5 separate regions of the Homo sapiens genome follow, and all the other regions are linked to region 1. Evidence: fine-mapped QTL for protein levels in blood plasma. A gene starts in region 1. Each other region holds a variant in brackets. All regions are shown on one strand. Distances are between the middles of the regions.

Region 1 (5,106 bases):
GTTGCATGATTGCAGAGTTACAGAGAATTTACAAGACTTTAAATAGTTACCGATAGTGATGCTTTTATACAGTGAGCAGGAATAGTAACATATTAATGTCTGGTAACTTTGTCAAGCTAAAAAATCATAATTATAGGACTGGACACCGTCGTTCAAGCCTGTGATTCCATCACTTTGGGAGCCCAAGACAAGAGGATCACTTGAGTCCAGGAGACCAGCCTGGGCAACATAGTGAGGCCTTGTCTCTACAAGAAAAAAAAAATTTAAAAATTGTCCAGGTGTGGTGGTGCCTGTGGTCCCAGCTACACCAGAGGCTGAGGTGGGAGAATTGCTTGATCCCAGGAAGTTGAGGCTGCACTGAGCTGTGATCATGCCACTGCACAACAGCCTAAGCAATTAAGGAGACGTTTTCTCAAAAACTAAAATTAAAAAAGGATCATAATTATGAAGGGGGAAAATGTGATATAGGTATTATGTATATAAAAACATAATGAGAAGCACCGTTATTTCTCATGAAGGCAAGTGCTTTCTATGAATCCATTGACAAGGAGGGTGCTGGGCAGCTAGTGATGATAATGGTGATAACCAAGAGGAAAATGTCACAGCAGAGCCAATTCCCTTTTTCCAACTCATTTAAGGACCCACCCACTATTGTGTTTAGACACCCCGTACACCAAAAGGCTAAGGTTGCTTCTGTACAACATATTCAAATAAACCATTCCAAGGTAGACTTCATTTTACTTGTAGAAAGCAACATTTTGCAGATGAGTTTTGTTTGGTTTGTCTCCGTCAATCAATTTTAAGCCAAATGTATAAACCATTTTAACAAGAGATGAATCATGAGGCACCTGAGAAGTAATACAAATATACCAGCTACAATGAATTTATTTAACCTTCACAGCAGTAGTTACTGTTACTATCCTGCTTTAACAGAGGAAGAAACTAAAGTGCAAGGGGTTTCGAGGAATTTGTCCAAGATGCATACAGCTAAGAATTGGCAGAGGAGGGATTTGAACTCACCTTGGCTGATGCCAAATCCAAGTACTTGATCATTAGGCTGTACCACCTCCCCAGTAATGTTACACAGGTAAAAATTAATCACGTGCCTAGTGTGTGCTGGGAACTGTGTTAAGCCCTTTATATACATTACCATGTTAACTTTGATAGTTGAGACATTTGGACACAGGTAAGAGGGATAACAAAAGAACCACTAGGTCGACTGTTCTATGTGTCTTTGGCATAATACCCTAGCTTGGATGAAATCTCTGTGTTACTTGAAATTGCAAGATTTTAGCAAAATCAGTTATTTTATGATTTCTTCCTTGCAGAGGTGGAATGGTGCAAACCAGTGAGCAGTATGAATTTGTGCACCATGCTCTGTGCCTGTATGAGAGCAGACTTTCAGCAGAGACTGTCCAGTGAGTCATTGAAGACTTGTCAGACCATCAATCTCTTGGGGTGATTAATCAAATTACCCACCCAAGGCTTCTAGAAGGAGCTTCCTGCAATGGAAGGAAGGAGAAGCTCTGAAGCCCATGTATGGCATGGATTGTGGAAGACTGGGCAACATATTTAAGATTTCCAGCTCCTTGTGTATATGAATGCATTTGTAAGCATCCCCCAAATTATTCTGAAGGTTTTTTGATGATGGAGGTATGATAGGTTTATCACACAGCCTAAGGCAGATTTTGTTTTGTCTGTACTGACTCTATCTGCCACACAGAATGTATGTATGTAATATTCAGTAATAAATGTCATCAGGTGATGACTGGATGAGCTGCTGAAGACATTCGTATTATGTGTTAGATGCTTTAATGTTTGCAAAATCTGTCTTGTGAATGGACTGTCAGCTGTTAAACTGTTCCTGTTTTGAAGTGCTATTACCTTTCTCAGTTACCAGAATCTTGCTGCTAAAGTTGCAAGTGATTGATAATGGATTTTTAACAGAGAAGTCTTTGTTTTTGAAAAACAAAAATCAAAAACAGTAACTATTTTATATGGAAATGTGTCTTGATAATATTACCTATTAAATGTGTATTTATAGTCCCTCCTATCAAACAATTACAGAGCACAATGATTGTCATTGGGTATATATGTATTTACTCTCTATTATTGGGCATAAAGGTGGCTTCTGCTCCAGAACTCTATCCACTGTATTTCCACATCGTGAGTCATTTTACTTTAAAAGGGAAAAACAAATTTGTAGCAACTCTGAAGTATCAAGAGTTTTAACTACTTGTCTCTCTTTTGCTAAGAAGGGATTTTTGAATATGCTATCTACCTGGAATCTCTCTCTCAACAAAAGGTATATGCCTTCAGGAATGATATAATCTGTCCCATTTTCGAGGCTCCTTATAAGGACATTTCCATGTATGTCCTTACATTTCTGAAAGCTTTCAATCTTCAAGAGACAAAAAAAATTAAAATAACTACCCTCAGCAAACACTAGCTGTTCTGCTCATATATGAATTTTTAATGCAGCAATGTTGACTTTGTTTCATACTGCCAATAAACTCTTAATACTAAATACTGAGTAAAGCATATTCTTTTTTTTTTTTCTATTTGGAAAGACGCCATCCTCTGTTTGGGGAAGACCAAAGTAGATAATGTGATGGGTTTAATTTTAGTGTCTGCATCTCCCCAGTGAAGATGACGATCTCAAAATGTAATATTGTCATCACTTGGGAGATAATGATCTAGAAGTGCCATCATTATGTGGTTTTCCTCAATAGACTCGCAGCATATCATTATACAAACAGTACATGTTTATGTCTTTATATCACTTGTCATAGACCCTCATCAATTACATGGCTTATGTTTATTCAGCAGAATCACATCACCTGAAGAGATGTAATGTTTCAGGAACATTCAATTATCTGAGATTTCAATTCCTTTCTTTCTTCTTGAGGTTAAGAAGCAGTCACATGCCAAAGGAAAGGTAGGTGAGGTCTTAACGAGATTTACTCTGCTCTTGAAGGCTGGAATATTTTCTACATTAAAAAAAAGAGGTAATCATAATCCCTTCTTTCTAAGGAAACAGACAAAAGGACACTGGTGTAAAACTTCCCCAAACAATTCAATAGGAGGAAGTGCTCGTCACTGACTTTTCCCCCCACCATGAAGGCACATTTCCTTCCTAGTCTTTGCTTCTCTTATCTGGGAGAATTTTTTTTTTCCCCAAGCGAAGCATGAACAGTTGCTAAGTGGAAAATGGAGGCTGAATTTTACATGGTGATTCTTACCTGCTTGATCTTCAGGAACTCAGGTGAGTGGGTCTGCCTCAGTGTCCTGAGGCATTTCTTCAAGATCTAGCCAAGGAGTCCCTGGTCTTTGAAGTGTCTGAAATAAGGTAGAAGGGGCCAGGTCTCCATGGCAGTTTAGCCAAAGACGATGAAAAGCAGGAATAAAAGGAGCCAGCTATGCCCATACTGTTGAGATTTCTCTCCAAAAGAAAATAAATGCTCTCCTCTCATCCTCCAAATGCTTCAGGCAGCCCCTGAAATGATACATTTAGAGCAGAGCGTAAAGAACCCCGAGGAAAAGTTTGTATTATTATATAACAGTCTGTGGCTTTCCCCAAGCCTTTTTCCGACCCGGTTATAGTTTTATTTTCTTTTGTGTTGAAGAAAGAAAATTGAAGGAATATGATTAAAGGGGGTGAGGAAATGTAGTGTGTTTTATTTGGAAGTTGTCATTTGGGAGGGCTGAACATTTTCATGAGCGAGCTGGGCAATTTAAGTAAAACCTCATTGAAAATGGTTTCTGAGCCAGAGTATCTTGCTCTTTAATACTGATGTTTAGCAATTTGATGTTTAATTTTCTTACACTGGCACATGATGATTTTTAGAAAATCTATTCGTATTTGAGAGAAAACTGTAGATATTGTCATAAAATAGAGAAATGCTCCTCTCCACGACTAAAGGAAATTTAGTTTGTGATAATCAATACTTTCATTGGCTGCAATTAGCTAGGAGGTTGTGCTTGGAGAAGTGGGAAAATTTGTTTTATTTTTTGATAAATGTATGCAATTTTAAAAAATTGTTATTCAAACTATGAAATTTGTATATAAATACTGCAATGTGAATTTAAAGACTGGAAAAGGGGGTGCTTTTTTAAGGTAAGGGAGGAAGCTTATATCGAATATGTCAAATGGTTAAAAAGGGAGCTGAGCATTTCATAACTTCAGCATATCTAACTAATTGGGCTAAAATATACTATATACTTTGGATGGTTTTGTTTCTTTCCAAGCTTCCTTTCATTTTCCAATAAGAGGTGTGCTTTTTTCCCCTAAAGCATGTGAAAATTAAAAAAAAAAAAAAGATGGGGAGTTAAGTGTAACATATTGACATTTTATATCGTCAGCTTTGGAATTTTAAATCACATGTGTTAAATATGAGAATGTTCACTTGAAATGATAGAAATAACAAAATATAAGTAAAACTAGTGATTTTATTTAGCTCATTTGTGGGTGGGTTCTTCCGTTTTCTAATGGGCCTCATAATTTGCTACATAGTGCTTTATGAGCTTTTCATCTTCCAGAAGGGTTTCAGATTGTCCATGTCCAGAAACAACAGTGTCTTTTCAAAAATGAGAAAGTGGTCGTGGGCTCATGCAACAGGACCATCCAGAACCAGCAGTGGATGTGGACTGAGGATGAAAAGCTCCTTCATGTTAAATCTGCACTGTGCTTGGCCATCTCCAACTCTTCCCGCGGCCCCTCCCGCTCAGCCATCTTGGACCGCTGTTCCCAGGCACCCCGATGGACCTGCTATGATCAGGAAGGCTTCCTTGAGGTGGAAAATGCCTCTCTCTTTCTCCAGAAACAAGGCTCCAGAGTAGTGGTCAAGAAGGCCAGGAAATACCTCCATAGCTGGATGAAAATAGATGTCAACAAGGAGGGAAAACTGGTCAATGAAAGCCTCTGTTTACAAAAAGGTGAGCTATTCCTTTCAGAGCAAATCCTGAAAGTCTTTCTACTAAATATCTTGGGGGTTTTGTTTGTTTGTTTGTTTGTTTGTTTTACATTTAAGGGAAGTCCACATGCCCCAACATATTTCCTATGGAAGATTCATAAGCTAATGGAGGTGGATGGTGACGTGCCCAATG
Region 2 (5,106 bases), 32 kb after region 1:
AGGTAAAGGATGACAGGTGCAATTGGATGGCCAAGCCACACGGGGTTGGGCCCTGCCTTTTCAAGCTGGTGTTTCATTTGAGTTCCAGGGATACAAAAAATGAAGGTAAAAATACCTGTGAAGATAAATATTGACAGAAATGTCTGGTTTCCTCGGATCTAGCCAGAAGCAGCTTGGTGGACTTTCAGAGACTCCCTTAGTGCTGAAAACAGCCAACTAGCTACTGAAAGGGTCGGGGTGGGGTGCAGGGCGGTCAGCAAAGAGAAACTTTGGGCTGCGGTGGGAATTTTTTAAAGTGATGTGGTTTACGCTTCCATTGCATTAAATTGTCAAACCCTGGAATAATTTTAAGTAAACGTTTTTAGAATAAATAATAGAAGTACAATATTAGGGGTATGCCTTTCCTCAACTTAGTTTTATTTTTAGAACTGTACATAAAATCTGCAGGAATAGAATGGAGCCATTCATCAGGGAAAATTAGAAAAGTCTCTTGAAATGAGGACATGAAAATTGTTTTGTATCTCTTGAGTAATAACCCAAACAGCATAGTATCAGAGAACGTCCTTTGATTACTTTACAGCAATTATTTTCCTTACACTTTTGCTGAATCCCTCCATGTGGATATGTTCAGAGTTTGCCTTTCTTGCCTCAGTTTTCTTATCTGTAAAATGGGAGTGTTAGACTTAGGTCATTCAAGTCCAAGTTCTTACCAAGTGCTCAACACTTAGGTATGGGCTGTCATGTACATTACCTCATTTAATCCTCAGAGCTACCCTCAGACATGCTCTAAATTCTTTAACAATTTTCAGGTTTTCTGACTTCATTAGTCTTCATTATCTCTATTTGTTGCAACAGTGTATCCTTACCTTCATCCAGAGATTCAAATTTATGTTAAAATTTTAAAAGTCAAATTTAGAAATGTGTTGCCCTTAGTATTCTTTCACATTTCAACCTGAAACAGGATCATTTCTTTTGCTACAGTTCTTCAAAGAGGTGTGAGAACTTTCAGCTCTAAAGGCAGGTGCAGCAGTTTCAGAGAATTTAACTGGGCTCATGTAGTAAGTCAACTAGATATTATCTTTTTTTTTCAAAGAAAAAAATCAAAATGCCCAATTACATCACTTAACTTACTTCAGATGAAACTTTTAGATGATATCTGAGATTTGCAGCATCTTAAGTTGAAAAGAGAAATCGCTTGTTAAGAATCTGGTGGTTTCTCTGACTGGGCGCAGTGGCTCACACCTGTAATCGCAGCACTTTGGGAGGCTGAGGCAGGTGGATCATGAGGTCAGGAGTTCAAGACCACCTTGGTCAACATGGCAAAACCTCGTCTCTACTAAAAATAAAACAAATAAATAAATAAAAAATTCGCCTGGTGTGGTGGCGGGCGCCTGTAATCCCAGCTACTTGGGAGGCTGAGGCAGAGAATTGCTTGAGCCCAGGAGGCAGAGAAGCCAGATTGTGCCACTGCACTCCAGCCTGGGCAACAGAGGAGACTCTGTCTCAAAAAAAAAAAAAAAAAGAAAAGGAAAATGAATCTGGTGGTTTCTAATATGGAATCAGAGAGCCTGAAATAGACCACATAATTAGAACATTTTACAAAAGTTGAAAGGCTGGGTTTTTAGTCCAAATGTTGTTGGTTTCTTAATATTACAGGATAGTTCTTATAAATACTCATATTGCTAATACTGTGAAATACATAACATAGAACTTACAGATGTGTTAATTGTGTTTAGAAAGGCATCTGGCCAACTAGTGTATGTGTTCAGTGGAGCAGAGCAATTTGTAAAAGCAGGCTGAGCTTTCAGAAGTTTGTTGGAGAAAAGATTAAGACCTTTAAGAAGCCAGAATATGGTTGTTTAAACCAGAGGATTTACTTTTTGGAAAAACAGTAATGGAAAAGGACTTACTGTGGGTGTAATTAGTTAGAATAGGCTTTGAGTTTAATTATGCAAGTAGGTATTCAAGTCCAGAGGCATTTCTGAAATGTAAGAAATACTTGCATTTTATTGACCATGTTGAGTGAAACAAGACTTCATCAGCATCCACAATGTGCTAGCATTCAGGGTTCTCACCATTTTTCTTAAAGAGACACACTTTACTTGTCTACAAATATTATGAGCTGCATGATAAATGTGAAGCATGAAAGTTGCAGGTGGTATTTGCATAATGATAAATTTCCCACATGTATTTGTATGATGGTTGTTTAGATTTAAATTACTTTTTTAAATAAGATATTTTAAAAATTGTTTCAGGGAGGAATTTTTTAGTCGGTTGTTATTTATTTGTCAGTAGTTCTTTCTACATTTTAAGGACATATGTGAATTGTTCACTTAGTTAATACAAAGTACTAGTATTCCCCTATGTTAATTGCTGAGCTATAGAGATGAGATGCATAAATCATATTTTACTGTTATTAAAGCAATGCCAACTAGTATAATATTCAAACTCAGACAAACTTCAAACAAAAAAGTAATTGAAAATATCTGTGCTTTCTTTATTCTATTATGC[C/T]TGTCTTATCAGTCTAAAACAAAATAGAATGAGAGCAAGACATGATTTGGATAGAAATATAGTTGTTGCTTAGATGATCTCTATATCATTCCAAATGTGACTGGCCTGATTATTTTTCCTGATAAACTGTCTAAAATAGCTCATTATTTTCATGTCATATAGACACGACCTTAAGGATAAAAAAATTGAATTAAATGGGCAATATTTCAGCAATAGTCATTTTCCATTCCAGATTTAAAATCAGAATCGAAGAACATAATGGATTTAAACCCAGTTCAGTGCACATGTATCAAACATAATACTGTTGGGAACTATGCCAGGTAGTGATTAGTAAGCTTATAAAGATGACTAACAAAAAGTGGTTCCTGACCTTGTTGTCTCGTGCAGAGGTGAGAGACGGTTATGATGAAAGTGGCAACAGAGCTTTATCTCATCTTTTCTGGATGAGGACTTTACTCTGCCTCATGTATGCCATGCTTTCATAACCATAGAGGACAAGATATTTGGCAATTCTCAGGTTTACTTGGTCATTAAACGGTCAACGCAACAAGAATATCCTTTGAAAGCCAAAGTATTTAGTGTGAACTCACCAGAAATCAGACAATGAACATACCAGATATGGAATAAGTTGGCATTTTTTTTTCACTTCTTGTAGAGCTCTTCTTAAACTTGGCACTTTTGAAGACTGTACTCAGAGTCTAGAGCAGAGGTTGCAAACTGGTAGCCTCTAGAGATAGCTAGGTGTCTAAATAATAACTATGTTGTGTTTGGCTCATGTAGTGTTTGTGAAAACATCCAGATCATTTCACCAGCATTAAAAATCAAAAATTCACATTAAAACCCAAATGTATGGATTCTCTTAAAATTTTGGAAGATTTGGCAAAACTGTGCCTAAAACTCTCTAGAGCTGACTTGTGTCTTCTCCTTTTAGATACCAACTCACTGGAATACCACTTCATTCATTTCCTTACCTGAATGCATTCTAAAGACATTTGAATTTGTGACTTCTACTTTGTGGTTTTCATTTGAAAATTTTAGGGAGCATTTATTTGTCTGGCAATAAGAAGTAGGTTTTCAGTACTTAAATGGCATCTAATACATGGTAGGTGTTCCGTAAATACTGATTAAATGGATGGATAGATGGATGAATGGAAAGATGGATGAATGGTGGATCTGGGCACGGATGATGAGTAGAAGAGATAGATAGACCAATATATAGATACAGATAAGCATGTAGATGTGAATGAATGAAATTAATATTTTAGTGAGAGAATGTACATATACTAAAAATATATTCTATTCTCATTGGATTATGGGTAGATTACAGAGCCCAGGGAAGAGTTGTAGTGGTAGATAACTTTACCTGTAGAAATAATATTTTAAAAGCATTTTCCCTCTTGTTAAGTCAGTTTCAGCTACTTATTAGTCAGCCTAGAAAAATAAAAAACAAAACCTCTCAAATGATTTTAATTATTTTAATATGGCTAACTTGTCTTTAATAAAAAACATTTTAGGAACGTTAATTGTTGAATCACCATATCAGCTATTATTTCCACTTCTTATTGTATTGGTTTACTAGGAGTGTCTTAACAAAATACCCCTGACTCTAGGTGGCTTAAACAACAGAAATTTATTTTCTCACAATCCTGGAGGCTAGAAGTCCAAGGCGAAGGTGTCTGCAGGTTTAGTTTCTTCTGAGGCCTCTCCTTGGCCTGCAAATGGCACCTTTTTGCATGTCCTCATATAGTGGTACCTCTGTTTCTGTTGTCTGTCTGTTAATGTCTTCTCATAAGAACACCAGTCATATTGGCTTAGGGCCCGCTCTAATGGCCCCATTTTAACTTAATCACCTCTTTAAAGGCCGTATCTCCACATACTGAGGTACTGGGGTTTAGGGTTTCAACATATAAATTTGGTGGGGACACAATTCATCCCCTAATACTTCTATAGTTTTAAACATAAGCCATCATTTCTTAATATCTGTAGGTTACCTGCATCGAAATATCTTGCAGAGCTGGTTATGAAAACATATTCTTGGTTTCTACCCCACATGGAAAGAATTAGAATTTAGAAGGAATAGAGCTGAGGGAATCTGCATTTTAAACAAATATCAGAGTGAATCGATGCACACAAGTTTAAGAACTATTGACATAATTTTTCTATTATTTGTTGGCATTAAGATTTTGATACAATTCTTCTTAATGCATGATCAAATCTATAATGCCTAGGAGTATTTATTATCTTTCCCAGGAAGAGAAGAGTACTCTAGTATTTGTTTTGTGCTTCTTTAAAATTTTATTTTATTTTTTTAATTTTTTTCAGACAGGATCTTGCTCTGTTACCCAGGCTGGAGTGCAGTGGCACAATCACAGCTCACTGCAGCCTTGACCTCCCAGGCTCAGGCAATTCTCCTGCCTCAGCCTCCTGAGTGGCTGGGACTACAGGTACCCAATACCACACCCAGCTAGTTTTTTAAATTATTTGTAGAGATGGGGTCTCCCTATGTTGCTCAGGCTGGTTTTGAGCCTCTGTGGCCAGCCTGTTTTGTGCTTTTATAGCATATAAAAGACTACCACATATTATGTTTAATTGGTA
Region 3 (5,106 bases), 110 kb after region 1:
CTTATTCTTGCCTCTGGCCATTCTTCCATTTTGGAATGGCTTTATCTCTCTTCTCCACCTAAGTCCTACCTATCCTTCAAGATTTATTTTCTAATCTTCCCTCCAGGTCTAGTAGCATGTCTTTGTCTATTTGTGCTGCTAAAACAAAATACCACAGACTGGATAATAAATAATAGAAATTTATCTGTCATAGTCTAGAGGCTGGAAGTCCAAAATCAAGGCACTGGCAGCTTCAGTGTCTGTTGAGAGCTTAGTCTCTGCTTCCAAGATGGTGCCTTGTTACTGTGTCCTCCAGAGCAGACAAAGGCTGTGTCCTCACATAGAGGGAGGGATGGAAGGGCAAAAGAACCTAGCTAGTTCCCTCCAACTGTTTCACAAGGCACCAGTCCCGTTCATGAGGGCAGAGCCCTCATGACCTAATCACCTCCTCCACCTCTTAATACTGTTGCATTGAAGATTAAGTTTCAACATGAATTTTTGGAGGGGACACAAACATTCAAACCACAGCACAGCAATTGCCACCTGTAGCACCTAATTTTTTCTCTTAAATTTGTTCTCTTGATTTCTCTTTGCTTCAGTCTGTCCAGAAAATCAACCTAACAAGTGAAATCTCTCTCTCTCTGGCGAGCCTGGTATCTAGCAAATTAATGTTTGCAGCAACATTTTGATAGCCCTAACTGAATGGCACTAATAAATATGGAGCAGGGAACTGCAGCAGTAAGAGAAATGCCAAGTGTACTCATCTCCTCCCTGTCAGCCCAGCACCCTAGGAGCCCTGCTTTCCTATGTCCTTGGAACCTTGACACTTTTAATAGGAAGGTGAGGCACTCACCTCAGAGCTTTCTGCTTTTTGAAAAATGGCAGGCATTTTTGTCCAGGACCACTGGAGAACTGTTATCTTATAAATGTGTGTATCAAAAATCCCCAGATGACACAACCATTTTGGGGAGGAATTTGGCAATCCCTAGTGCAGCTGAAGGTGTTCATGCCCATGACCAACCCAAGAGTTCTGCTTCTAGGTGTTGACCCCTGAGAAATCTCCACATATATTCATGTTCTTTGCAACACATGTTTTAATAGAGAAAAATTTAAAATGATCTCACTGCCACTGGATTAGCAGTGGTTTATGAAGAGAATTAATTAAAAGAAATTAGATCAGCTGGGTGTGGTATATCCTGCCTCTAATCCCAGCACTTTGGAGGCCAAAGTGGAAGGATCACTTGAGGCCAGGAGTTCAAGACCAAGCTGGGCAACTATTAGGGAGACCTTATCTCTACAAGTCTTTTTTTTTAATTAGCTGGGAGTAGTTACACATGCCTGTGGTCCCAGCTACTCAGGAGGCTGAGGTGAGAGGACTGCTTGAACCTGGGAGGTCGAGGCTGCAGTGAGCTATGCTTGTGCCACTGCACTCCAGCCTGGGCAACAGAGCAAGACCCTGTGAAGGACGGAAAGAGGGAGGGAGGAAGGAAGGAGAGAGAAAGAAAGAAGGAAGGAAAGAAGAAACGAGAAGATCTATATGTAGCAATATAGATAAATCTGAAAACATAATATTGAGTAGGAAAGTTGACAAAAAGATACCTAAAGCACATATGTTACCATTTCAGTAGATTTTTCAAACATAAATGTTTATAGATTTACCTGTATGTAGGAAAAGTATTAAAAACATGCGTGGAAATGATACACAGTAAGTGCAGAGCAGTACTTATCCCTGGTAGAGTGGAGGAGGGACAGGAAGGGAGTGGAAAGAGATAGAAGGCTGTGGGGGGGTGGGGTTGGGGGACTCTAGGTTAAACTTATTTGAGAGAAAGAAATATTCCTATCTTCTCCCATAACTGGGAAGGGAAAAAAAAGATTGTGCCAGAGTCTCTAGATGCAATCTTGAAAGGCAAATTTAATAAAAAGGCTCAATCTTCCTTTGCCATCTCTTCTAGTGCTGGTGTGGGTAGGACTGGAACCTTTATTGCATTGGACCGAATCCTCCAGCAGTTAGACTCCAAAGACTCTGTGGACATTTATG[G/C]AGCAGTGCACGACCTAAGACTTCACAGGGTTCACATGGTCCAGACTGAGGTAAGAGTTATAGACTGAAAGTTACAGGCCACCCTCCTCCCCACTGTATTCCCACAAAAAAATATCCAGGACCTTAATCTGACAAGGGGAAATAACTATGACACATTAGGAAGAGAAAAAAAGAACTGCATGTAGATATTTTCTAAGACTTGTTATTTTAAAACAAATCTCACTGGTCTTGAAGGTGACCATCTTGGGGATCATTTTAAGATAGGCTGGCAGATGAGCATAAGAACTTCACTTAGGAAAGAAGAAGATCCCAATCTCTTCTCTCCCCCAGCCCCACTCCCTCCACCTACACCCCCATTTCAGGAGACCCCAAGGGAGTGTATGTAGATGGTAAAGACCACGTGCTTCCATTTGTGCAGCACTTTGACATTTGCAGGGCATTTTTGAACATGTTATCTCATTAAATTTTCACAATAACCAAGCGAGACATATTATATTCTACTTCCAGACTAGAAAATGAAGGTCCAAAAGCTTAAGGGCTTTGCACAAAGCCCACAGCCATGAAGTGGCTGAGGTGGCTTGGCCACTATTCTAGAGAAACCTGGGCCCTTGATTGTGCTATAAGCGTACTAGCCTCAGGGTCAGATCTCTTCCTCAATAGAGACCAAGCATTCACTCCTCTGCATCAATGCCTTCTAAGGCTCAAATTCTCTTACCCTCGTGTTTCACAAGTTTTTCTCCAAGTAACTAAGCAAAATCCTCTGTATTAAAAAAAAAAATCCATGGTTGGAAAAGTAAAAAGTTCTACATGCTTCTGTGTCCCCTCTTAGAGCCACAGTACCCAAGGACAATGCACAGACAGCAATGCTCCATAAAAAGAGAGCTTCCTGCAGCCAAGGCCCCCTTTGAGCTTTATTGAACCCACTAATCCCAAAACCACCTTGACCCCTGAATTCTTTTCTTGTGCAGCACATATTAATATCCTGCATTCAAGCCAGTAACAATTGAACCAGAGAAATGAAAATAAAAATTAAAAATATTCTGCAGAACTCACATTTGACAAAACAATGGCATCATTGCCTCCTGCAGGCAGGAACCTCTGCCACCACTATTGTCCTGGGCTGGGAGTACTTTCATTATAACAATGATTCTACCATATTTTGAATGTTTTATTATGAAATTGTTTTGAAAAAATATACAAAACATGGCTGGGTACAGTGGCTCATGCCTGTAATCCTGGTGCTTTGGGAGGCCTGGAGAGGGGCAGATCACTTGAGGCCAGGAGTTTGACACCAGCCTAGGCCACATAGCAAGAGCCCATCTCCACAAAAAATTTTTAAAAAGAAAATACACAAAACTAGGAAAAATAGTATAGTGAGTTTCCATGTACCCAAACCCCTGCTTCTACAATTATCAGTATTCTGTGTTCTTTTCCCATCTGTATCCCACATTTAATGTTCCCCTACCCCATGACCTTATCCCACTGAAATATTTTAAAGCAAATCCCACTTATCATATTATCTCATCCTTAAATACACATATACTTATATACACATATGTATGTGTACACGTGTGTATGTATATATGTATGTGTGTAATACATGTCATATTGCATATATGTGTACATGTGTATATGTGCATGTGTATATGTATACACCTATATGTGTACATTTGTATGCATATGTGATATTACATATATTGCATATATACATATGTACGGGTATATAAGTGTGTACATGTGAACATGTATACATATATATGTATATTTGAGATACTCTTTAAAACTATGACCACAATGTCATTATCACATCTATGTCTTTCTTAACCGTTATTCCTAAATCTCACCTAATATCCAGTCAGTATTTAAATATCCCTAATTATCTCAAAAAATTACTTTTTATAAAAAACTATATTTGGTTTTCATTAGAATCCAGAGTTTACATATTTCATTTGGTTGAAGTGTCTCTGAAATCTTTCTATAATCTATAATCCTCCCTCCCATTTGTTTTCCATGATATTTATTTGTTAAAGAAGCCAGCTGATTTCTTCGGCAGATTTTCCCACATTCTAGATGTGGCTGATTGCTTTTTCATGGTGGTAATATATTCCTCTACTCCCCATGGATTTTTCCTCTACTCCCCATGGATTTTGTCAGCTGGTGGTTAGATCTAGAGGCCTGATTAAACTCAATGCTTCATGGGTGGTGCTGAGGGCTTTCTGTTGCATGACATCAGAAGGCAGATCACCATGTCTGTCTCTCTTTCAGCGCTGAGGAAACTGACAGTGAGTTCAGGCAGTGTCAGCCTGAACCCTTCATTATCCCCATCAACCCTTCACTTAATGGTTTTAGCAGCCACTGATGACCTCTGCCTAGCGCTGTTATTTCATCAAAGGTTGCAGAATTATATAACCCTGTATCATAATTATTAATTATTATCCTTCTTATTAATTATTATCCTTCAGCTTTCTCCACAAGACTATGCATTCCTAGAGGGTGGGAGCCTGTTTTCCTCCTCTTCTATATCCTCAATATTTTTTAATCTTTTAAATGAATGAACAAATATCCTACAATTATGTTGCTAAAAAGTCAGCATTAATATTTTGTTAGTTTATTGTCACTTTCACAAACTCAAACCCTAATTAATTTGTAACTTGGGAAAGAGGAGGTTATCGTATTGTAAATAGTCTCAAACTGTGTGTATTTGTGTGCTCTAGTAATTGTCAAAGGATTCTTGGGCCATGTATCACCTCCATACACCTGCCCCAAACTCATAATGCATTTTGGCAACTAGGAGGGACTCTACTGTCAATATCACTGGCTGACTTTCAGAGCAGAGGTAACACAATGTTCCTCTTCCTCCTTCTCCTTAGAAATAACTCCATCTTTTCCCTGTTCTGTTCTCCTTTTCCTCCTGCCTCACTGAGGACACTGTGGCATAGTTCCTCAGCTTGCCTTCTTAATGTTTGAGTTCCCCAAGGTTTTGTCCTCAAGGCACCACCCTTTCTCTCAGTCTTCATTCTTTGTGATATTCTCCATTCCTGTACATGCTCATGTTACCCAAATCTAATCTCCTGCCTCCGCATACATGT
Region 4 (5,106 bases), 48 kb after region 1:
TTGTAATCAATCAATTGATCGATCTATTTACTATGTACTCAATATTATTGAATATTAATATATAAAGGCGATAAGAAATGAGGCAGATGGCAGACCTTTTTGTGCATTCCACTTAAAGAATTTCTGAACTGGAAAGGACCATTGTAGGTCTTTGACCTAGCCTCATTTGCCAATAAGAAACACCATAAGGCTCAGTGAACTAGAAAGAGCTGTCCAGAGTTTCCCAGCTGACTAATGGCCCAGTCTGAACCAGAATCCAGGCTTCTGCCTGCCAAGGTTTTGGCCTTGCCACTAGGCATATAGCCTACCTTTGGTTTTACAACATTACTTTTTGCCTCTTTAAAACCTTTTTTTATTTTTATTTTTTCACCATCTGAAGAGGATAATATTTGCCTCTTGAAGTGCTTGTTTTCTCCAGAGCAAGGAATGTGGCTTGCAGAAATAAAATTACAGGTCAAAATTTGGCCATAGGACTTGTGAGAGATCCTGAGTAAAAGTCTCCTTTCTGTTCTTTCCTGATTAGCCCCCATGGAAGTCTCAAATCTGAAGGTGACAAATGATGGCAGTTTGACCTCTCTAAAAGTCAAATGGCAAAGACCTCCTGGAAATGTGGATTCTTACAATATCACCCTGTCTCACAAAGGGACCATCAAGGAATCCAGAGTATTAGCACCTTGGATTACTGAAACTCACTTTAAAGAGTTAGTCCCCGGTCGACTTTATCAAGTTACTGTCAGCTGTGTCTCTGGTGAACTGTCTGCTCAGAAGATGGCAGTGGGCAGAACATGTGAGTCTTGGGCTCCAGAATGTTCCTTGGTTGCTCAAATCACTCTCTGATCCACCTTAAAATAGGACAAAATAAGTCAGCAGGAAAACTCCTTTCCCAATCTGAGAAGTGGAGCCTATGTAACTGAAGGTGTCTGTAGTATGGCCCATTCTTCTGAGTCACTTAGGCAACTGAGTTTGGATTTCTGAATGATCTGCATGTTGTTTCTGTCTTATGCTTTTTCATGTCACGTCACTTAAGTAGCATAAATGCATTAGCATTGATACCAGTATATAAAACATTTCTGATTCATTCTTACAGTGAGAACCAGTTAGCATTTAACCATGTTTTCCATACATTATTTTATTAATTTATGTCCTCACTTATCTATCCAGTGCCTTATATATGTAAATTACTGTACTATTGTTAAAACGACTAAGACATGCTACTTGCCTTTAAGGCAGGATCCAGCAGACTACCCCATCTGGTGCCAAATCTGGTCTGTGGCCTGATTTTGTTTAGCCCTCAAGCTAAGAGTGGTTTTTACATGTTTAAAGGGTTGTACAAACAAATAAGGAAACAAACAAGAAAAAGATGAGACAGAGACCATATGTGTCCTGCAAAACCTGAAATATTTACTACCTGATCCTTACAGAAAAAATTGTCCAACTCCTGCTTTAGAAAACTTTCATTTTAATCACACAGATGTGGAATACACACATGTACAAAAATAAAAATAGTACATTTTAATAATAGTGACTGTATTGATATTTGCATGTATCAGGCACTGACTAAATAATTTATATCCATTATTTCATTTAGTTCTCACAACAAAACTGTGAGAGATGTCTTGTTATTTATTACCATTATACAGATAATTCAAAGAGGTCAAATAATTTGTCCATAGTCATCCAGCCAGTAAGTGGTAGAGCTAGAATTTAAACCAGGCTATTTGATTCCAGAGTCCATTCTCTCTGCTATTAGAGATCTGAAGTAAGAGATATATGGTCAAAAAGGAAAGATAAAATTTTCTTTCATAAGAGCAGTAAAAACTTGGAGGAAATGGGAGCAGGGTGCGGTGGCTCATGGCTATAATCCCAGCACTTTAGGAGGCTGAGGTGGAGGGTTGCTTGAGCCCAGGAGTTTGAGACCAACCTCAGCAACATAATGAGACCTCGTCTCTACAAAAAAAAAAAAAAA[AT/T]TAATTAGCTGGGCATGGTGACATGTGCCTGTGGTCCTAGCTACTCAGGAGGCTGAGCTGGGAGGATTGCTTGAGCCCTGTGGTTGAGCCATGATTGCATCACTTCACTCCAGCCTAGCAATAGAGTGTGACCCTGTCTCAAAAAAAAAAAAAAAAAAAAACTTGGAGGAAATAGAAATGATCTTTAATAAGGACCTAAAAAATGTAACGTTTGTGACAAAGAGGGAAAAGAGGGAAGAGCTTTTGGGGTGGAGGGGACAAAATAAGCAAAGGCCCAGAGGCAGAAGGGCCCAGGAGACTTGCAGGTCTACAGAACATACAACCGGAAGCCAGCTTTCCAAAGGGTAGGGAAGGAGAGAGGATGGCTTCAGAAAGTAGTCTCAGTTAAGACTGGAAGGATATGGGGTCTGAACTTAAAGAGCCAAAAATGTAAGCAGAGGGCTTGACATTTTATTCTGCAGATTATAGAGAGACCTTGAATGTTTTTAAGCAAAAAAAAAAAAAAAAAAAAGAACTTAATCTTGCAAGAACATTAATCTTTTTAGTTGGAAAAGAAAGAAAGGAATGCCTCATGATCACGACATCCAATATCTCTTACAAAGGATGCCACATATCACTAGATTATTAACACTACAACAGAAGATTACATTACTGATATCACTAAAATGATTTTAGCGGACATTTCTTGTGTGTCAAATGTCTCCGAAATAAAGAACACTCATTTGCAATCCACAGACATCAAGAGGGGATAGAAATGTTTTGAACTGCAGATATTGTGTCTCCTATCTACTGCTGCCCAAGAAAAGTAAATGAGTATCCTTACTTTTGGTCTGTAATATCTCCTTTTTGACATCATTTCACCGTTTAGTTCCAGACAAAGTTGCAAACCTGGAGGCAAACAATAATGGCAGGATGAGGTCTCTTGTAGTGAGCTGGTCGCCCCCTGCTGGAGACTGGGAGCAGTATCGGATCCTACTCTTCAATGATTCTGTGGTGCTGCTCAACATCACTGTGGGAAAGGAAGAAACACAGTATGTCATGGATGACACGGGGCTCGTACCGGGAAGACAGTATGAGGTGGAAGTCATTGTTGAGAGTGGAAATTTGAAGAATTCTGAGCGTTGCCAAGGCAGGACAGGTAGGCAAATATGAAGATGTTAATACCAATGGAAGAGTAATTTGTTCCCTCTCCCAGGTAACCCAGGTAACTGCCGTAACTGCTAATATCATACCCTGGTGTTTTCTGAATTTGAGATATTAAGGACTTTAAGGCTAACATGGGGTTTCTAACACCTAATTTGTCAAATTAGAACATTTAAAATCACTTCCACTAGTAACTCCATTATTTCATGAAAGAAAGCCATTTCAAACACCAAAAGAGTAAGATGCATACATTCTGAAAACAAACACTGACCCTTCCCACAAAAGAAGAACCTTTTGCTAGTGATCAGCATTAGGGAACCATTGCCTTGACCTCATGTTGACTAATGTGGGGATTTCAGGTACCAATGAAGAGTGATTAAAGTGGAGAGGGATATATTTGGATTTTAGGGAAGGGAAGAATAAGGATACTGAAATGAGAAAACAGGCTCAAAGAGGTTATAACTTGCCCAAAGCTTTGCAATATAATCGTGACAGCAAGAATACCAAGACTCATGTTTCAGTATCCTCATACTGTCAAATACTTGTACTCATATTGTCAAATAAGAGAGTTGCACTTCCAAGTTCAACATTTGCTTGATAATCCTTGTAATGTGAAATACTCCATATTTAGAGTGAAATTCAAATACCTTCTTTCTTAGTTCGCCTGATAATAGGGAAATAACTACATGGATTCACTGTTCTTCTTAGAACAATGTCAAAGAAAAGGATCATGACACCCACTTAGCTTGCCAATGTGTCTTGCAGTAATCTCCTCATCTTCCAAATATTAATATCCACTGGATGATGATCAAAGACCTACAGAGCTTAAACTAAGCGACTTTTAGTATTTCACAGGACAAGCATCTCTGTCATCTCCAATATTTTATCACTCACCTCAAATAACTTGGAAATGGAAGATCACAGAACATTAGGGGCTCTCAGCATGTCAGCATAATTCTCAGGAGAACTTTTATTTATTTATTTATTATTTTTACATTTTGAGACAGAGTCTTGCTCTGTCTCCCAGGCCTAGGCTGGAGTGCAGTGGTACAATCTCGGCTCGCTGCAACCCCCACCTCCTAGGTTCAAGCAATTCTTGTGCCTCAGCCTCCCAAGTATCTGGGATTACAGGCGTGTGCCACCAGGCTCAGCTAATTTTTGTTCTTTTAGTAGAGACAGGATTTTACCATGTTGGCCAGGCTGGTCTCAAACTCCTGGCCTCAAGCAGTCCGCCTACCTTGGCCTCCCAAAGTGCTAGGATCACAGGCACAAGCCACGGCGCCAGGCCAAACTTTTGTTTTTCTTTTTCTTTCTTTTTTATTTTTGAGATAGAGTTTCACTCTTGTTGCCCAGGCTGGAGTGCAATGGCATGATCTTGGCTCGCTGCAACCTCTGCCTCCCAGGTTCAAACGATTCTCCTGCCTCAGCCTCCCAAGTAGCTAGGATCACAGGCATGTGCCACCACACCTGGCTAATTTTGCATTTTTAGTAGAGATGGGGTTTCACCATATTGGCCAGGCTGCTCTCAAACTCTTGACCTCAGGTGATCCACCCGCCTCAACCTCCCAAAGTGCTGGGATTACTGGCATGAGGCACTGCACCCGGCCCAAACTTTTCTTAAACTGTGTCTCTGGTTCACCTTATTCAGGTAACTTGAAGTAGGCCTCGATGTAAATAATCAAATTATTTCTCTATACCGAAGAAGGAAGATGGAGAGTTAGGGACTCAATTAGAATGGATTTATAGAAAATTTATGGATGCAAAATTTACAAGAAAATTTTTAATACTTGATTCTTTCATAATTTAAGGCAGCAACACTTTATTCTTTTCTTTTCTTTTCTTTTCTTTTTTTTTTTTTTTTTTGAGACAGAGTCTTGCTCTGTTGCCTAGGCTGGAGTGCAGTGGCACCATCTCAGCTCACTGCAACCTCCACCTCCCCCACTTAAGCAATTCTCATGCCTCAGCCTCCCGCTGAGACTACAGATGTGAGCCACCA
Region 5 (5,106 bases), 41 kb after region 1:
TATATTTAATACATACACACACAGTCATATTATATGAAATGTGCACCCCTGATAGAAGTATCTAATAAAATTTTGAAAACTTTTTAAATCCATCAGAGTTTTTATTGGGCTTAGATTTAAAGGGAGTCTGAAAACTATTTAGTTTCTGCAGCATGCATAGCAATAGTGGACAACTGCCAGCAAAGGGCTTTATCACAGTATAAATGGGGTTTTAAGTGTTTGTTTCCAGTGCAGGTTCTCGCAGCCCAGGCACTTCCCAGTCTCATTGTTCCTTTGTTCTAGCGGATGTACAAAGGATTGACTGTTTTGTTTTCTGGCTCAGAAAGATTAGATAAAGTCTGCATTTCTGAACTTCACCCTCTAGACACGCAACCTTAAAATTTATTTCTATATCTCATATTTTGTGGATTATATATGTTTGGATTCTACTGATCATGACATTATTTTTTAAAATTTTTATCTGGCTTGATAGTACATGTAGATGATAGTATTGATCCCTTTTGAACTATCACTGGAAGCAGCTGTCCCTCTCATCCTTGTCCTTAAAATGCCACTTCAGCAAAAGTATGTCATCTCAATTGGGTACGACAGCATTGTTCTTGAGTTTCACTGGCTATTAGAATCTCATAGACTCCTCTATATCTTGTTACTTTTCAAAACTGCCTTGGAATATAAGTATTATTATTATACTCCCCAGATAGGAAAGTGGAGGCTTAGACAGGTTAAATAGCTTGCCCAAAGTCTCATGACTTTGTTAGAGCTGAGATTTAAATTTAATTCTGACTCCAAAGCCCATGCTGTCTGCCATTACATTTCACTGCTTCTGTGGCAATATTTTCACCTAATTATAGGAATAATAAAAATAATAACAGCTAACACTGAGTACTTACTACGTGCCAGATACAGTTCTAACTACTTTTTATATAATATTCAATGTAATCTTCATAACAATTCTACTAAAAAGATATTATTATCAGGATTGCATAAATGAGGAAACTGAGGCACAGGGAGGTTAAGGAATTGCCCAAAGCACACAGCTACAAATAGGAGAGCCCAATTCAAGCCCGGGCTGTCAAACCCTAGAACATATGTTCTTCAGGTGAACCAAAGGGCTGTGCTGTGGTGTGAACCATGCAACCTTGTCTTCCAAGCTCACCTGTGTTTCGGGCACTCTGTTAATTTTTGTCATAGTTACTGCTGCCTCAGCTTGCTTGTCAGCTAACATTTATGTTATTATTAATTATTGATGTTATAAATGTGGCATATATAATTTTGCAATATGATGTACTTAGCATAAATCATAGCATAAAACATAGAAACATTAGATTTCATAGGCTCTATTAAGCCTATGGTGTCTATTGGTCAGCCATACATAGTCTTATGAGTTGTCTGTTTATAACTGCCTTTTGAATATAGAGTAAGGCTATCTTATTTCTTTTATATGTAAATTACAAGTGAATATCATCTTAAAACATATAAGAAGGTTATATCTTCTAATAAGGTCTAGAATTCCTGGTGTTATATTGTGAACACAATATAGTCTACCAGGAAGTAGTGAAGTTTCTATAGCCATGCCATTATAATATCTGACCTGACCCTTCAATATTGGTCTCCAATATCTTGATCCCACTTTCTAGACCAAGAACCATGTTGGATTTCTGAAAATTTCTCATAAAGAGGTCTCTCAATAGTTCTACTCTCAGCACTCAGGGTAGGGGCAGCCCCTTATTTCTTAGACTTTACTCCCCACTGTACCAAAAGAATGGCTGCTCACTAAATATCATTGACTTAGTTCCTAATCCTGATATGCTTTTTATTCTATTCAAGTTCAATGGTGGAGATTCAACATAGGCAAAGCAGGACTTCTCAAACTGATCCTTGGCTTTGAGAGTTGAAATAAGGTGAACAGCTGGGTGCAAGATTTGCCCATTCCCACTTACTCTGGGTGCTCTGGCAGCACCAAAGTGCCCCAAAATTGAGATTTTAAAAACCTAGGGATATAGGGGGCCAGATGCGGTGGCTCATGCCTGTAATCCCAGCACCTTGGGAAGCTGAGGCGGGCAGATCACCTGAAGTCAGGAGTTTGAGACCAGCCTGGCCAACATGGTGAAACCCTGTCTCTACTAAAAATACAAAAAAAAATTCACCGGACACAGTGGCGTGTGCCTGTAATCCCAGCTACTCGGGAAACTGAGGCAGAAGAATTGCTTGAACCCGGGAGGCGGAGGTTGCAGTGAGCCGAGATCACGCCACTGCACTCCAGCCTGTGTGACAAGAGCGAGACTCCATCTTAAAAAAAAAAAAAAATCTAGGGATATAGGGAATCCCAGCTACTGGGAGAATCCATTTTGGTAAGCAACCCTATCCTAGGTTTATAATCAGATGTGTATCTTTTGTGGTTGTCTAATATCTAAAAACCACCCAAAGTTACATATACTAGACACCAACAATCTACAACCTAGGAAGAAGTTCAGTGTATATTTCAAATTATTTCTTAATATCTAGATTTTCTGTTGAGATCTTCAGTATTTATCCAGGCATAACCTGGATGTTTGTCAATGTTTGAAAAAGTTGCTAAACTGCAAGCCAAAGAAAATATAACTTTGCTTGGACTTTCAAGATCAGAGCTACCTTAACAACAACAAAAAAAGTTTCAGTAGAAAAAGGAATTCATATGACTAGTAGCTAAATGGGTTTTTTTTTTTTTAAGAAAGTGAAAGGGTAGGTTTGGAAGTGAAGCAAAATGGCAATTTATTTCACAAATAACAGATTTTTGAGAAAAATGAACCTGGACTGCAGTAAAATAAGCAGTTATTTGCAAAAGTCTTCAAGCCATGTTCTTTTTTTTTCTTTTTCTTTCTTTTTTTTTTTTGTGTGTGTGTGTGTATTTGCCTTGCAGATCCTTTACCTCCTGCTAGGTTTGGAGTCAGTAAAGAGAAGACGACTTCAACC[A/G]GCTTGCATGTTTGGTGGACTCCTTCTTCCGGAAAAGTCACCTCATATGAGGTGCAATTATTTGATGAAAATAACCAAAAGATACAGGGGGTTCAAATTCAAGAAAGTACTTCATGGAATGAATACACTTTTTTCAATCTCACTGCTGGTAGTAAATACAATATTGCCATCACAGCTGTTTCTGGAGGAAAACGTTCTTTTTCAGTTTATACCAATGGATCAACAGGTAAGACCTGTTTATTTTATAGCTGAGTAGTTAATAGGATACTTTTCAAGTTATACTTTATTCAAGGAATAGGAGTAAGATTGCTACTCCAGAGCAAAGTTAATTAATTAGCAATTAGTTAAATTTTTAAAAGGAGCTTGTGGGATACAGTGGACAGACTGGACTGAAAATAGGATGCGTGGCTATGCTGGTAACTTGTTGAGTGGTTTTGAAGAAGTCATGGGACTTCTGTGGAATTGGAGTTTTCTCCAACTTGGAATGGATACTCCCTAATGGCCCTTCTAACTCAAATCCAAAGCAACAAGACTTTCTGCCCCATTTTCTAAGTTTGTGCCATAAAACTTATTTTTTAGATGTTTTTATTCTTTGTATACTCTTCTCATAACATCAAGTCATAATGTTTCCTAACTATTCCTATGTTTGAAACAAGTCTTTGTTTCTCCAATGTGGTGAAAAATAAGGCATCTGTGCACCCACATATTATGATATACATGGCACATCACTACCTCCTTCCATAAAGTACATGTCTTTCATGTCATTTGCTCTCCCCTCATTTTCTCTCTTCTTAAATTTTTTTATTATACTTTAAGTTCTGGGATATTTATACTTTAAGTTCTGGGATACATGTGCAGAACATGCAGGTTTGTTACATAGGTATACACGTGCCATGGTGGTTTGCTGCACCCATCAACCCATCATCTACATTAGATATTTTTCCTAATGCTATCCCTTCCTTATCCCCCTCACCCCCCAACAGGTCCCCGTGTGTGATGTTCCCCTCCCTGTGTCCATGTGTTCTCATTGTTCAGCTCCCACTTATGAGTGAGAACATGCAGTGTTTGGTTTTCTGTTCCTGTGTTAGTTTGCTGAAAATGATGGTTTCCAGCTTCATCCATGTCCCTGCAAAGGACATGAACTCGTCCTTTTTTATGGCTGCCTAGTATTCCATGGTGTATATGTGCCACATTTTCCCTCTCTTTTTTAAATCTTCCTCTCCATTTTTCATCTTCTATAGTTCTTTCCTTTCTCTCTTCTACTTACTGCTGTGCAATGTTATATACTTCACTGGCAAAAGCCACCTTAATACCTATTAAGTGGGGGAGGCAGACAAGTAAATTATGATGTAACTTGAGGCTGCAGACTTTGAAAAGAGCACTAATCAAAGTTCCAGTGAAATTTCCAGAATCCTGTTATTTACTAATGCTATTATCAAGTTAAGATGTACAGAGGAACACAAATGAATATGTGACTTCTAATTAAATGTGTCTATGTCTCCTATAAGGGAATTATTAATGACATTTGGACATGCATTTTATCCCACTAGTGCCATCTCCAGTGAAAGATATTGGTATTTCCACAAAAGCCAATTCTCTCCTGATTTCCTGGTCCCATGGTTCTGGGAATGTGGAACGATACCGGCTGATGCTAATGGATAAAGGGATCCTAGTTCATGGCGGTGTTGTGGACAAACATGCTACTTCCTATGCTTTTCACGGGCTGACCCCTGGCTACCTCTACAACCTCACTGTTATGACTGAGGCTGCAGGGCTGCAAAACTACAGGTGGAAACTAGTCAGGACAGGTAAGTTCCCCCTAGCTAGCTGAAGAAGAATAAAGTGAAATCAAGGGAATGTTTAATAAGTCAAGTTTATTATATGAATAACTGTAATATAGGACAAATTGAAATTCTTATAAGGTATAGAAGACCCATATCCACTTTTCTACTCAGAAAAAGAAGGATTCTCTTTTATTCTAAAGTTTAGGCTAGCCCTTGGCAACATTTTGAAGTAGGCAAAGTTAATTACTGATATGGACCTAGCTTCTCTTCTTCTCTTTTTAATACTCTATCTCCTTGCTAAGGATTCCTACTTCCTTTTCTTAAACAGGCAACTGCTGTCTTTATGACATCACTCACAGTGAACCAGAGT

Direction of the effects. Alleles are on the strand shown, and positions count from the first base shown. The strength of an association depends on the size of the effect and on how common the allele is.
With allele C in place of T in region 2, the plasma level of the protein whose gene starts at base 3,177 in region 1 is lower (moderate association).
For the plasma level of the protein whose gene starts at base 3,177 in region 1, allele G in region 3 goes with a lower level than allele C (weak association).
In carriers of allele AT in region 4, the plasma level of the protein whose gene starts at base 3,177 in region 1 tends to be lower than with T alone (moderate association).
For the plasma level of the protein whose gene starts at base 3,177 in region 1, A is the high allele of the variant in region 5 and G is the other (strong association).

What was found. PIP is the chance, under the fine-mapping model, that this variant and not a neighbour inherited with it causes the effect. Protein levels are from antibody-based Olink assays in UK Biobank. Linkage for the fine-mapping came from a reference panel and not from the study's own genotypes, which makes the PIPs less certain.
Region 2: its variant is fine-mapped to the plasma level of the PTPRB protein (UK Biobank, PIP above 0.99).
Region 3: its variant is fine-mapped to the plasma level of the PTPRB protein (UK Biobank, PIP above 0.99). The variant lies in the coding sequence of PTPRB. If it changes the protein, the assay may bind it differently, which can mimic a change of level.
Region 4: its variant is fine-mapped to the plasma level of the PTPRB protein (UK Biobank, PIP above 0.99).
Region 5: its variant is fine-mapped to the plasma level of the PTPRB protein (UK Biobank, PIP above 0.99). The variant lies in the coding sequence of PTPRB. If it changes the protein, the assay may bind it differently, which can mimic a change of level.

What each region holds. Positions count from the first base shown.
Region 1 is chr12:70,635,500-70,640,605 of GRCh38, reverse strand. It overlaps PTPRB (protein tyrosine phosphatase receptor type B), which reads left to right and starts at 3,177. Exons shown (of 34, transcript NM_001109754.4): 1 at 3,177-3,265; 2 at 4,540-4,935. The coding sequence starts at 3,211. PTPRR (protein tyrosine phosphatase receptor type R) reads left to right here. Exons shown (of 14, transcript NM_002849.4): 14 at 1,329-2,527. The coding sequence ends at 1,422.
Region 2 is chr12:70,603,965-70,609,070 of GRCh38, reverse strand. PTPRB (protein tyrosine phosphatase receptor type B) reads left to right here. Exons shown (of 34, transcript NM_001109754.4): 4 at 1-2. Among named protein-coding and RNA genes, the nearest start is that of PTPRB, 31 kb to the left of the region's middle. The variant C/T (reference allele first, on the strand shown) is at 2,512.
Region 3 is chr12:70,528,996-70,534,101 of GRCh38, reverse strand. It overlaps PTPRB (protein tyrosine phosphatase receptor type B), which reads left to right. Exons shown (of 34, transcript NM_001109754.4): 32 at 1,932-2,067. The region is part of intron 6 of PTPRB-AS1 (PTPRB antisense RNA 1); the gene reads right to left. Among named protein-coding and RNA genes, the nearest start is that of PTPRB-AS1, 63 kb to the right of the region's middle. The variant G/C (reference allele first, on the strand shown) is at 2,018.
Region 4 is chr12:70,587,963-70,593,068 of GRCh38, reverse strand. PTPRB (protein tyrosine phosphatase receptor type B) reads left to right here. Exons shown (of 34, transcript NM_001109754.4): 7 at 524-787; 8 at 2,836-3,105. Among named protein-coding and RNA genes, the nearest start is that of PTPRB, 47 kb to the left of the region's middle. The variant AT/T (reference allele first, on the strand shown) is at 1,967.
Region 5 is chr12:70,594,121-70,599,226 of GRCh38, reverse strand. PTPRB (protein tyrosine phosphatase receptor type B) reads left to right here. Exons shown (of 34, transcript NM_001109754.4): 5 at 2,900-3,178; 6 at 4,503-4,760. Among named protein-coding and RNA genes, the nearest start is that of PTPRB, 41 kb to the left of the region's middle. The variant A/G (reference allele first, on the strand shown) is at 2,953.